4 linked regions of the Homo sapiens genome follow. The protein of the gene in region 1 purifies or fractionates together with the protein of each later gene. This does not show direct contact. Each region holds a gene or a part of one and is shown in the gene's direction. Other genes may lie near its edges.

What was found. Proteins that work in one complex are often made in the same cells at the same time.
Region 2: the proteins of TOR3A (region 1) and SLC38A10 purify together in Homo sapiens (co-immunoprecipitation; one large-scale study listed by IntAct). This does not show direct contact.
Region 3: the proteins of TOR3A (region 1) and RMDN3 purify together in Homo sapiens (affinity purification with mass spectrometry; one large-scale study listed by BioGRID and IntAct). This does not show direct contact.
Region 4: the proteins of TOR3A (region 1) and TOR1AIP1 purify together in Homo sapiens (co-immunoprecipitation; one study listed by IntAct). This does not show direct contact.

Annotation. Positions count from the first base shown.
Region 1 is NC_000001.11:179,092,070-179,094,282, forward strand, and holds part of TOR3A (torsin-3A precursor), read left to right. Parts: intron 1-2,023; coding exon 2,024-2,148; intron 2,149-2,213.
Region 2 is NC_000017.11:81,247,310-81,250,307, reverse strand, and holds part of SLC38A10 (solute carrier family 38 member 10), read left to right. Parts: intron 1-214; coding exon of another isoform or gene 215-238; intron 239-2,998. UniProt on the Homo sapiens protein: Facilitates bidirectional transport of amino acids. May act as a glutamate sensor that regulates glutamate-glutamine cycle and mTOR signaling in the brain. The transport mechanism remains to be elucidated.
Region 3 is NC_000015.10:40,748,755-40,752,254, reverse strand, and holds part of RMDN3 (regulator of microtubule dynamics protein 3), read left to right. Parts: intron 1-76; coding exon 77-269; intron 270-584; exon of another isoform or gene 585-685; coding exon 686-829; intron 830-3,500.
Region 4 is NC_000001.11:179,909,785-179,913,284, forward strand, and holds part of TOR1AIP1 (torsin-1A-interacting protein 1), read left to right. Parts: intron 1-3,500. UniProt on the Homo sapiens protein: Required for nuclear membrane integrity. Induces TOR1A and TOR1B ATPase activity and is required for their location on the nuclear membrane. Binds to A- and B-type lamins. Possible role in membrane attachment and assembly of the nuclear lamina.

The DNA of each region.
Region 1 (2,213 bases):
AGACACATTAGCACCTCCCCCTACAATGAGGCACCTAGCTAGACAACTTGGCTGTCCGGGCTTAACCTGCGTGGCAGGGAAGGACGCCTGCCCAGCCTTAGCCTCTACGCAATGGTGGAGGCAGGGAGGGAGAGAACCACACAGCTCCCCTCATTTCCCAGCAGCCCCCATGGAGCCTAGTCAACAGGGTGTGGTCACAGGCTAAATGAGCAAAGATGTGAGCTAATATACTGGTAGGTGTCATGGGGGCTTTCAGAGCTGGGTAAGGAGGGAAAGAGATGGAGATACTGGTTCCCCACTCCTTAACCTGCCACCTGCCTTCCCTGTCCTTTACCCTCCCTCATTCTGCTGGACCTGAGGAAAATGCAAGGGAGGCTAGGCCTAGTGGCTCATGCCTGTCATCCCAACACTTTGGGAGACTGAGGTGGGAGAATCACTTGAGCCTAGGAGTTTGAGACCAGCCTAGGGAACATAGTGAGACCTCGTCTCTACAAAAAAATTTTAAAAATAGGGCCGGGCACACCTGTCATCCTAGCACTTTGGGAGGCGGGCAGATCAGCTGAGGTCAGGAGTTTGAGACCAGCCTGGCCAACATGGTGAAACCCTGTCTCTACTAAAAAAATTAGCTGGGCATTGTGGCATGTGCCTGTAATCCCAGCTACTTGGGAGGCTGAGGCAGGAGAATCTCTTGAATCCGGGAGGCAGAGGCTGCTGTGAGCTGAGATCACGCCACTGCACTCCAGCCTGGGCAACAAGAGTGAAACTCTGTCTCAAGAAAAAAAAAAATAGCTGGGTAGGGTGGCATGTACCTGCAGTCTCAGCTACTTAGGAGGCTGAGGTGAGAGGATCAGCTGAGCCTGGGGAGGTGGAGGCTGCAGTGAGCCAAAATCACGCCACTGTACTCCAATCTGGGTGACAGAATGAGACTGTCTCCAAAAAGAGAGAAAGCACGGGGAAGTGCAAGTGCATTGATGTGGAGCTGGGCAAGGACTTGGTTTAAGGAGCTGGTGGAGCTGGCTGAGGCTGCAGCCCAGGGAGGGGAGGAGAGTGCAGTGAGGTGGGGGAGAAGTATGCCTGGGCCGTGGAGGGCGGAGGAAGGCCAAGTCTCCACTACCTCTGTCCCAGCTTCCCTGCTGGTGGCTCTACGGTTGCATCTTCTCTCCTTATCCCCTTTCTCCCTCCTATCTCTAACCCAAATCACTTTCTGTGCTTCAGACCCGTAATTCCAGTTGCCCAGTGATATCACAACCTGAGAGAGATCACAGGCAAGCAAAAAACACTCAAACGTGTGTAAAACCAAACTTTCATCTCCACCTTTCCGTGTTCCACCTCTGTTAAGGGGGACAGCAAGCAGCTTGAGGCTAACGCTTGTTCTTTGATGACCTCCTTTCACTTCTCACATCCATCAGTTACAGGGTTTTTCAATTGTGCCTCCATAACTAATTCTTAAATCCTCCTTTCCATCCCTTCTCCATGATCCATAAGCTCAAGTCCATGCAAATGGCAGACAAAGCCCTCCTCACCTTAGCCAGCCTTTCATGCCTGTGCTCCTCTGGCGCACCCAGGCCTAGACACTTCCCTTCCTTGCCAAGTGTCTGATGATCACTACTTGGTCTTTATTTGCTCAGAAGCCTCATCCTCCCTCTGAAGCCTTCTCCTTAGAACTCAGTCACTCCTCCATTAGCGCTTGCCACACTGTCCTGGAACCGAATACACGGATGCCCCTCAGACCACACAGAAGAACCATATCTTACCATCTTTTCATGCTCCCTGCACTTAGCACAGTCTCAGTAAGTGTGTGTCAAGAGGGAACAAGAGAGAATGGGTGGCAAAACTGGACAGTGTCTTTTCTGTGCAGACCTTTGGGTTGTGAGGTTGTGACAAGGTCTCCTGGAAGAGAGAGAAGGTCCACGCCCCTCAGCCTCTATTCTTCCAGGCACTAATGCATTGGTTTCAGCGGTGAGATAACATATATGGAAGCTAAATATAAACAAATGGGTTAACAAGCTCTTGTCTCTTTCAGTAATCTCAGGGGCGATATAATCAATGAGGTGGTCCTAAAGTTGCTCAAGGCTGGATGGTCCCGGGAAGAAATTACGATGGAACACCTGGAGCCCCACCTCCAGGCGGAGATTGTGGAGACCATAGGTGAGTAACTGACTCAATATGCCTCTGGTGAGAGCCACAGCTGGTGATAATTAATGTGTTTGTTG
Region 2 (2,998 bases), on another chromosome or scaffold:
CGCCCCCTGGGCTCCCGGAGCTCTGAGCCACTTCAGGAGTTCGGGCATGTGGGGTTTTGTCTCCGGTTTTAGTCTGGCCATGTTTGTTGGTTCCAATTCCTATGCTCTGTTACCTGAACCTGTTTGATTCTTTTGATTTTCTTCTTTCTGAAAAAGACTTTTCACGGTTTCCTATTCTGCCTTTCTTCCGTATGCCTCTCAACGGGACGAGCAGCTGAAATTAAAAAGATAGTAGCAGGTACGAACCCAAAGGAGTGTGCTGAAGTCAAGAGCCTGTCTGGCGGGCCACAGACCTGAGCGCAGCCCCTCGGTGGCACACCTGCCCCAGGGACAGCCCTGCATGGGGACACGTGTCAGGCCCCAGACCTGCGCACGCACCCAGGCTCAGCCACAGCCCCTCAGGCAGGGTCCCGATGCCCACTCTGCTCCCTTGTGTTACAAATGCCGTGGTCCTTCTCAGCCCTGCTGTGGCCTTGCCTGTCATCAGAGGGCAGCTGGTCTCTGCAAGCGTCTGAGTGCAGGCTGCTTAGGGCACCAGCCAAGGGGGGACGCTGCCTGCACTGCTGCCTCATGGGCCACCTTGACAGATCTGCATGGGTCTCAACAGGTGGGTGGCTTCGTGCCTTCTGCAGCCCAGTCCCCGTGGTCTTGGTGGGCTCTGGCTGTAGGAACAGCCTGTCTCCTCCACGGTGCTTCACATGTGTCCCACGTGGCTTCTGGCTGGACGTGGCATGGCTCCTTCCCCCCTCCCCCTCTTTTTTCCTCCTCTTCCTCTTCCTTCCTCCCTCCTCTTCCCTCCTCCCTCCTTCTCCCTCCTCTTCTCTCCTCCCTCCTCTTCCCTCCTCCCTCCTCTTCCCTCCCTCCTTCTCCCTCCCTCCTTCTCCCTCCTCTTCCCTCCCTCCTTCATCCTCCTCTTCCCTCCCTCCTGCTCCTCTTCCCTCCCTCCTCCTCCTCTTCCCTCCTTCCTCCTCTTCCCTCCTTCCTCCTCTTCCCTCCTTCCTCCTCTTCCCTCCTTCCTCCTCTTCCCTCCTTCCTCCTCCTCCCTCCTCCTCTTCCCCCACCTTCCTTCTCCCTCCTCCTCTTTCTCCCTCCCTCCTCCCCCTCCCCCTCCTCCCTTCTGTCTCCTCTTTCCTCCTCTTCCCAGCACCAGGCCCAGGGCTAGTCCTTTGAGGAGCAAGTGAGGCCATGGTGCCTGCTCTTTCGGAACCCTGCCCTGGAGTATGGGGAGGTGTCACCAGCACATGGGATCTCGTCCTTGTACCATTGACATTCCGTGGTTGAGCCCCGCAGCACCCAGGGCGAGCACGTGGCCCACGGCCGAGGTGGCTGGTCTGCCACCTGCACTTCCTCCTGTGAAAGGAGGTGTGCGGGAGACCTGCTCTGCCCGTCATGGCCTTTCCCTGCAGGCAGGCGTCTGGCCCGGGGTGCTAGCAGGGAGCAGGGGCTGCTGCTTGAGGGCCGGCCCCATGGCCCTGATCTCCTTGGAGCCAGCCCTGTCCCCCACATCCAGGGGTCTGGGCGAGGCCCAGGGCTGCGTTCCTGGGAGAATGCTGACCCTGCACTTCTCTGGCTGGTCATGGTGTCACCACTGGGGAGGCTGGGCCGGCACGTCAGTCTATGCCTGGCATGCAGGGCCGTCCCTGAGATATTTGCTCTCACCACTCACAAAACATCCTTCTCGCTCCTGGATTGAACTTTTATGCCTCACAGCCCTAACCCATCATTTTTCAAAGCTTCCTATAATAATTTGAAAACATCTTGTAAAAATGACATAAGTCACAGCCGCTTGCGGCAAATAACTGGCCAGTGTTGAAGCGAGTCAGACCGGGTGCTCCTGCACCAAGTGTGTGCCAGCCGTAACCCGGGCAGGCCTGTCCTCTGGCCCTTGCTGCAGGCACCAGCTCTTAACACGGGGTGCACTGGGGCTCCCCATCACGCAGGACCTGCCCAGAATTTCCACAGTGGATGGTGTTCAGGAGCGGTGGTTAGGATGGCTGGCGGGGGCCTCACTGACGCTCCAGCTCCCATGCTCCCCTTAGAAGACAGCTTTTGGCCGGGTGCGGTGGCTCATGCCTGTAATCCCAGCACTTTGCGAGGCTGAGGTGTGCGAATCACGAGGTCAGGAGATCAAGACCATCCTGGCTAACACGGTGAAACCCCATCTCTACTAAAAATACAAAACATTAGCCGGGCGCGGTGGCGGGCGTCTGTAGTCCCAGCTACTCGGGAGGCTGAGGCAGAAGAATGGCGTGAACCCGGGAGGCGGAGCTTGCAGTGAGCTGAGATCGCGCCACTGCACTCCAGCCTGGGTGACAGAGTGAGACTCCCGTCTCAAAAAAAAAAAAAAAAAAAAAAAAGACAGCTTTTGTTTGTTTTTAAAATTCTCATCTCGGAGGAAACTTTCTAGAAGTACCAATATTCTTTTCAAAACATAGCTTACAGTTTTTCTTTTCTTTTTTTCTTTTTTGAGACAGGGTCTTGCTCTGTTGCCCAGGCTGGAGTGCAGTGGTGTGATCACGGCTCACTGCAGCCTCGACCTCCTGGGCTCAAATGATCCTCTGGCCTCTGCCCCCCGAGTAGCTGGGAGTACAGACGCCTCTCACCATACCCTGATCATTTTTATTTTTTTGTTTTTTTTGTTTTTGTGGAGATGGGGGTCTTGCTATGTTTCCCAGGCTGGTCTCTAACTCCTGGGCTCAAGCGATCTGCCTGCCTCCGCCTCCCAAATTGCTGGGATTACAGGCGTGAGCCGCCGTGCCCAGGCTTATTTTCTTACGTGCTTGTCCTAGAACAACTGAATGTGTAAAGTGGAAAAAACAAAAACAAAACCCCACCCAGCCCAGATAACCATCTCTGACATTCTGGCACATTCCTTTTGACTGTTGCTCTGGACACTCACTTCCATGGGCAACGAGCAGGCTTGCTGGGGTCCTGCCGGGTGCGCCTGGGGCACAGCCAGTGGGAGAACTGATGCGGCACAGTGGCTGGCTGTGCGGGA
Region 3 (3,500 bases), on another chromosome or scaffold:
CTTGAATTCTGGGTGTGAGATCTCTTCCCCACCATATTCCTGTGTGTCACTGGCTCCCATTCGTTTCCCCCTTCAGTGATGCTCCTGCGGGCTGTCCCAGGTGGGGCTGGAGATGCCTCAGTGCTGCCCAGCCTTCCACGGGAAGGACAGGAGAAGGTGCTGGACCGCCTGGACTTTGTGCTGACCAGCCTTGTGGCGCTGCGGCGGGAGGTGGAGGAGCTGAGAAGCAGCCTGCGAGGGCTTGCGGGGGAGATTGTTGGGGAGGTCCGGTGAGTAATGCGGCTTCTTCTCCTGCTTTATCCCTCCCCTGCAGCTTTTCAGCTGGGGTGTGTTCTGGCCTTCGCTGTCTGTCTCTAAAGAATAAACCAGTTCTATAGCTTCTAGCCTAATCTGGGTTGAAGCTGTACATTTGGTACCTCGCCTTGCACATGCTCCTTGCTGCTTCTGGACTCTCATGGTTGATCTGTTGTAGCAGCTGAAGCGCTCTGTTTGCCTAACCTAGTCTGTCTGTGCGGGCTGGGCCCAGGAAGCTGCCCTGCTTGCCCTCCTGAGGGTTAGAGACTTAGGATTTTCTCTGCTTTTAGCCCTTTAATGAGGAGCAGTAGTAAGAGGCACCCCATGGTGAGCAGAAAGACAAGCTGGATGGGACCTAATGGTACCCTTCGGGATGGGGCCTGCTTTCCAGATGCCACATGGAAGAGAACCAGAGAGTGGCTCGGCGGCGAAGGTTTCCGTTTGTCCGGGAGAGGAGTGACTCCACTGGCTCCAGCTCTGTCTACTTCACGGCCTCCTCGGGAGCCACGTTCACAGATGCTGAGAGTGAAGGGGGGTGAGTTGTCTCTCTTGGAGGCAGTTATGGCTACAGCCAGGTTGTGTTTTGTAAAAGTATTATCAATGGAAAATTCAAACCAAGCTGCTGCAAATGATTTTTGGAACAGGTAAGAGTATAATAAATACAGAAGAGTTGAAACAAAAAACCCATCCAATTTATGTCATTCAGACAAATGTAGATGTTAATAGCAGTTATTGCTTGCATCTGTTATCTTAGTTTATTACATAGTTATGATATATTATTTGGGCATTTTTCTGTGTTATCACAAGGACTTGATAAGCATTGTTTGACTTTGTTCCTTTCCTTGGGTGGCTGAGCTGGTATACGGAGATGTCTAAGCACGAAGCATGCTCCTCCCTGGGAGTCACCCTCTTCCCACAGGGGAGCCTTGCCTGTGATCCTTTGCATTTTTACAGGTGGGAGGTGGATGTCCTGAGTTCTCAGTGGCCCAGGAGGGCTGACGATAGGCCTTTCTGTGAGGCGGGGCAGCTGGCAGGAGTCTGGTGGACAGCCTCCTCCAAGTCTGGTCATGCTAAGGGTGTTTTGAGTTTAAACCACTAGCACCACTTTGAAACTCTGGTCCCAAGGATAGAGTGTGATGTCAGTAGCAGCATCTGACCCATCTGACCTTATCTGCTGCTAGCTCCAGTTATTCAGGTAGCCTGTGTGAGGCCTAGAGGCCGATTTCTCCTTGTCCAGCCTTTATTCTTCTTAAGGGAAAGACTGGTGTAGAGAACAGCCAAGTTTTATGCTGGATCAGAGGAATTAGCTATAAGCAGGTACATGGAAACTAGAAGTTAAAATCAGTCCAGGTGTGGTGGTGGCTCATGGGTAATCCCAGCACTTTGGGAGGCCGAGACAGGAGGATTGCTTGAGTTCAGGAGCTTGAGACCATCCTGGACAAGGCAGCAAGACCACGTCTCTACATAAAATAACTACCTGGGGGAGGCCAAGGTGGGCGGATCACCTGAGTTCAGGAGTTTGAGACCAGTCTGGCCAACATGTCGAAACCCTGTCTCTACTAAAAATACAAAAATTAGCCAGGTGTGGTGGTGCATGCCTGTAATCCCAGCTAATCGGGAGGCTGAGGCAGGAGAATTGCTGGAACCCAGGAGGCAGAGGTTTCAGTGAGCCGAGATTGCGCCACTGCACTCCAGCCTGTGAGACAGAGTGAGACTCCATCTCAAAGAAAAAAAAAAAAAAAAAAAAAAACGAGCTGGGCATGGTGGCATGGGTCGGTAGTCCCAGCTACTTGGGAGGCCGGGAGTTTGAGGATGCAGTGAGCCATAATTGTGCCACTGCACTCCAGCCTGGGTGACAGAGTGAGACCCTGCCTCAGAAAAATAAAATACAATGTAAATACTAGGTGATAGGAATTTTTCAGCTCCATTATAATCGTATGCACCCACTGATATGCGCAGTCCGTGGTTGACTGAAATGTCATTATCACCAACGCTGGATTTGATGAGTGCTCCGGGGTCTCCAGAAACCTGTGGAGTGGTGGTGAAGAGCTCTCTGCTCTTCCATGGGGGACTGCTGTTGCCTGGGTTGTCAGATCCCTGTTATCTGCATTCTCAAGGGCAAACAGAGGTGGCCCTTTTCTATTCAATTTACCTAAATGGCTCTGGGCCAAGAGATGCTTCCAGAAGTTGTGTTAAAGAGGGGGCAAAAATGAAATTAATATTTGATACATCTGAATTGAAGAGAGAGACCGAGGAAGTAGTTGATAGTGGGCACTGAGATGTAAAGAACATCTCTGCAACCCAAGGAAGCAGGCCACTTGGGTGGGGAATTGATGTTTGAACTCTGTAAGGAGGTTGAACAGAAGGAGAGGTCACAGCTCTGCCCAAAATCAAAGAAAGCTTGAGGCCCTTCACAACTGTTTTTGTTTTTGTTTTGTTTTGTTTTGAGACAGGGTCTCACTCTGTTGCCCAGGCTGGAGTTCCATGGTGCCATCACAGCACAGCAGCCTCAACCTCTTGGGCTCAAGTGGTGCTCCTGCCTCAGCCTTCTGAATAGCTGGGACTACAGGCATGTGCCACCATGCCCAGCCAATTCTATTTATTTTTTTTGTACAGATGGGGTCTCACTGTGTTGCCCAGCCTGTTCTTGAACTCTTGGCCTCAAGCAGTTCTCCCACATCAGCCTCCAAGTGCTGAGATTACAGGTATGAACCACCGCACCTGGTCCTCTTTGTGATGATTTAAAGAAGTTGTACTAGGCCAGGCGCGGTGGCTCAGGCCTGTAATCCCAGCACGTTGGGAGGCCAAGGCAGGTAGATCACCTGAGATCAGGAGTTCAAGACCAGATGGCCAACATGGTGAAACCTCGTCTCTACTAAAAATACAAAAATTAGCCAGGCATGTTGGCAGGCACCGGTAATCCCAGCTACCTAGGAGGCGGAGGCAGAAGAATCACTTGAACCCAGGAGGTGGAGGCTGTAGTGTGCCAAGATGGCACCACTGCACTCCAGCCTCGGTGATAGAGCAGTACTCTGTCTCAAAAAAAAAAAAAATTACTGAGGCTGGGGTGTGGAGGCTCATGCCTATAATCCCAGCACTTTGGGAGGCTGAGGTGGGCAGATCACTTGAGGTCAGGAGTTCGAGACCAGCCCGGCCAACATGGTGAAACCCTGTCTCTACTAAAAATAGAAAAATTAGCTGGGCGT
Region 4 (3,500 bases), 820 kb from region 1:
TGAAGTCTCCCTCTGTCGCCCAGGTTGGAGTGCAGTGGCACAATCTCAGCTCACTGCAGCCTCCGCCTCCCACATTCAGGTCATTCTTGTGCCTTAGCCTCCTAAGTAGCTGGGACTTGCATGCATGCGCCACCATGCCCAGCTAATATTTGTACTTTTAGTAGAGACGGGGTTTCGCCATGTTGGCCAGGTTGGTCTTGAACTGCTGACCTCAAGTGATCCGCCTGCTTCAGCCTCCCAAAGTGTTGGGATTACAGGCATGAGCCACCACACCCAGCCTCATGTTTAGGTTTTGGATGGATTAAATGTCACAGAATTTAAGGAATACTATAAATTGATGTGATAAAACCATCGTACTTTGAACTCACTTTCTATAATTTCTATGGAAATGCGTCCACGTTAAATCTCGACCATATTTTTTTAAAGTCCATGCATATTCTCTGCCTTAAGTGACCTTTAACCTCCCTACTTTACTCATCTAACCACAATAGGTCTTGAGGTCATCAGGTATTCTCTTACTTTTATTTAGGTAATGTAAAAATCCACATCTTATATCTCTTGCTCATGGGATGATTAACTGTAATTGGACCAAATGACATGCGTGGCTCTGCTTTTCCATCAGTAAAGTAGGAGTGGTCATAATTCATTTTTTCTCAGCAGTGACGTTTTTAGCCCACATGTAAGTGAGTTCTTAAGCAGTCTAGAACCGAAATAACTTTTTGCCCTTGTCTTACTGTTGGTTGTCATTTCTTATTGCTGTGATTATGTGCCTGCTATTAGAAAACCATTTCCTCTTATAATTTGCTCTTCCTGACCTATTATAGTTAGGAAACCAAACATTAATTATTCAGCTTATTAGAATTATGTTTATAACCAGGATCAAACATTAAAATTAAATTTGAAGACCCAAGAGATACTCTTGGATGTAAAAATGCATGAGTTTTAGTGTATATAATGTGAAAAGCTCAGAGGCATCTTGTGTCATTTCTTAGTTCTTAACTGTACATTCTGAGTAATTAATATCAGATAAATGACTTCCAGATAAGTGAAGTTAGTACATACTTATCAGAAAATCTTTGCATAATTTTTTCCTCTAATAAGACACTGCAATAGAGAAGGAAACATAATTATATTGAACATCTAATAGAAATGCAGAAATAGATCTTTTTAGTTGCTAAATTGATAGCTAATTTTTAGTATTTTATCTGTTTGCATTTCTACTTTGTCTTAAGTTACTATGTTTATTATGGCTTACAGAATTATACATTGGTTGCTAACCACCTACCATATATAGATAACCACATTGAGCTTTCAGAGTTATGTAACAGTAACACACCAGAAGTGTGCATGTAATAGGATCTTTTAGACTTTCAACCACATGAGGACTTTAAGATAGAACGATGAGCAAGAAGAAAATATTTTCAATGGAAGTGGAAGACTACAGTGATTTTTCAAACACTGTTATATAATAGATTCCTCTTCAAGAATATTAAAAAAATGTTTTCCTAGCATTCCACATTTTATCTCTCATTCTTTAACTATATATTTCTGCCCGCTTTGGTGAGGAAAAAAAAGTCATTTTTAGAGCTGAGTGTTCAAGAACCTTAGGCTATAGATTCTACCCCATGGAACATTGTCACCCGACGTTAGCAACAGTTTCCTGTAGACAGGTCCCAGTTCAGGCTTCTGCCTGCATCCAAACCTTTTAGGAAAGATGGAACCACTGTCTTTACTTTTTCCTGTTTGCCAGGTGATAAAACAATGATTATAGAGAAGAATATATGTGCATGGAGAGGTCAGAGAACTAATATAAATGTTTTGGAACCTGTCTCAGAAATTTAGATAGAGAAAAGAAGACAATTTGGAGTTAAAGCTCTTGAGCTCCAGTCCTAGCTCTTCCACTTACTAATTGAGTAATCTTGGTAAAATCACTTAACCTTTGTGAACCTCAATTTTCTTGCCTTTAGAGACAGTAGTGCCTATAACTAGATTATTGTAATGAGCTTATATGTGTAAACACAATTTTTTAAAGTCTAAAATCTCATAATTATCAGGGCTTATTTATTGTTAATGTTTTCTGTAGAATCAATAGCAACTATGGAGGATTTGTGCCCTCTACTCTTGATGGTTGTAGAGTGATTGATTATCACCATACTCTTTAGACTAGAAAAGCTTGAGTTTTTTCTTTTTCTTTTTTTCTTTTTTTTTTTCTTTTTTCTTTTTTTTCTTTTTTTTTTCTTTTTTCTTTTTTCTTTTTTTTGAAACGGTCTTGCTCTGTTGCCTAGGCTGGAGTGCAGTGGCGTGATCTCAGCTCACTGCAACCTCTGCCTCCTGGGTTCAAGCGATTCTCATTCATGCCTCAGCTTCCCAAGTAGCTGGTGGTGCACCAATACACCCAGCTAATTTTTGTATTTTAGTAGAGACAGGGTTTCACCATGTTGGCCAGGCTGGTCTCAAACTCCTGACCTCAGGTGATCCACCCACCTCGACCTCCCAAAGTGTTGGGATTACAGGCTTGAGCCACTGCGCCCAGCTGAGTTTTTTCTTTTAAAAAGATGTTTTTTAGAATTGTTGTTAGCATCTCTAGTAATGTTGATAAAAAGGATAGCAGTTATACTTTGGACAATGTCCTGCCTTGGCAGTATATACCCTGCTGTGTATGTGTTTGTGTTATATGAATTATATAAATATTATATATGGTACATAATTATTATTTAGCTGTCCTTCATCATTAACATCATAGAATTGCACTTCACAGCATTTTTGTATATATTATCTCATTTGATCTTTGCAACCATGGAGTGAAGTATTCAAAATAAACATTATCTGATGGATTTGGGTTTCATGTGGTTAGGTATTTTTATTGTTATTTTAGTTGTAACTTCGATAACCTAACTTAGAAGCTTCTAAATAATGAAATATCCTAAGCTAAACTAGTAATTGAAAAACAGTATTCCTCTTACAGTTGCTGTCATTTTGTCTTACTACATCATTATGGAGTTTTTTGTCATATGATCAAAAATAAGGCTATTTCTGAATCTTAGCAGGGCTAATATTATTCCTCCAGTTATTCCAGTGTTTCTCAAATGAAAGTTGTTGATATAACGCTAAGAAGATCCACCAGGAAGTTCATTTATATATACAAAAGTTATAAAACTCCAGGCAAGTGATAGACGGCAATACTGGTAATATAGGTCATACAAATGAGATAACTCAGCCTCTCCACCTTCTGAAGCCTGTCCTTCCATTTCCTCTCTTAGATTTTAAAACCTGCTGGTATGCTAAGAAAGATGGAAGGGAAAGGGAAGGGTTAGGATCATTTTTAATTTCTTTTCTTGTTTTTAATTTTTTTTTTTTTTTTTAGAGATGGGGTCTCACAATGTTGCCCAGGCTGGCCTTAAACTCCTGTGCTCAAGCTGTCCTGTCACCTCAGCCTCTTGATTTGTCGGAATTACAGGCATGAACCACTGTGCCCGGCTTAATTTATTTTCTAAATAGAT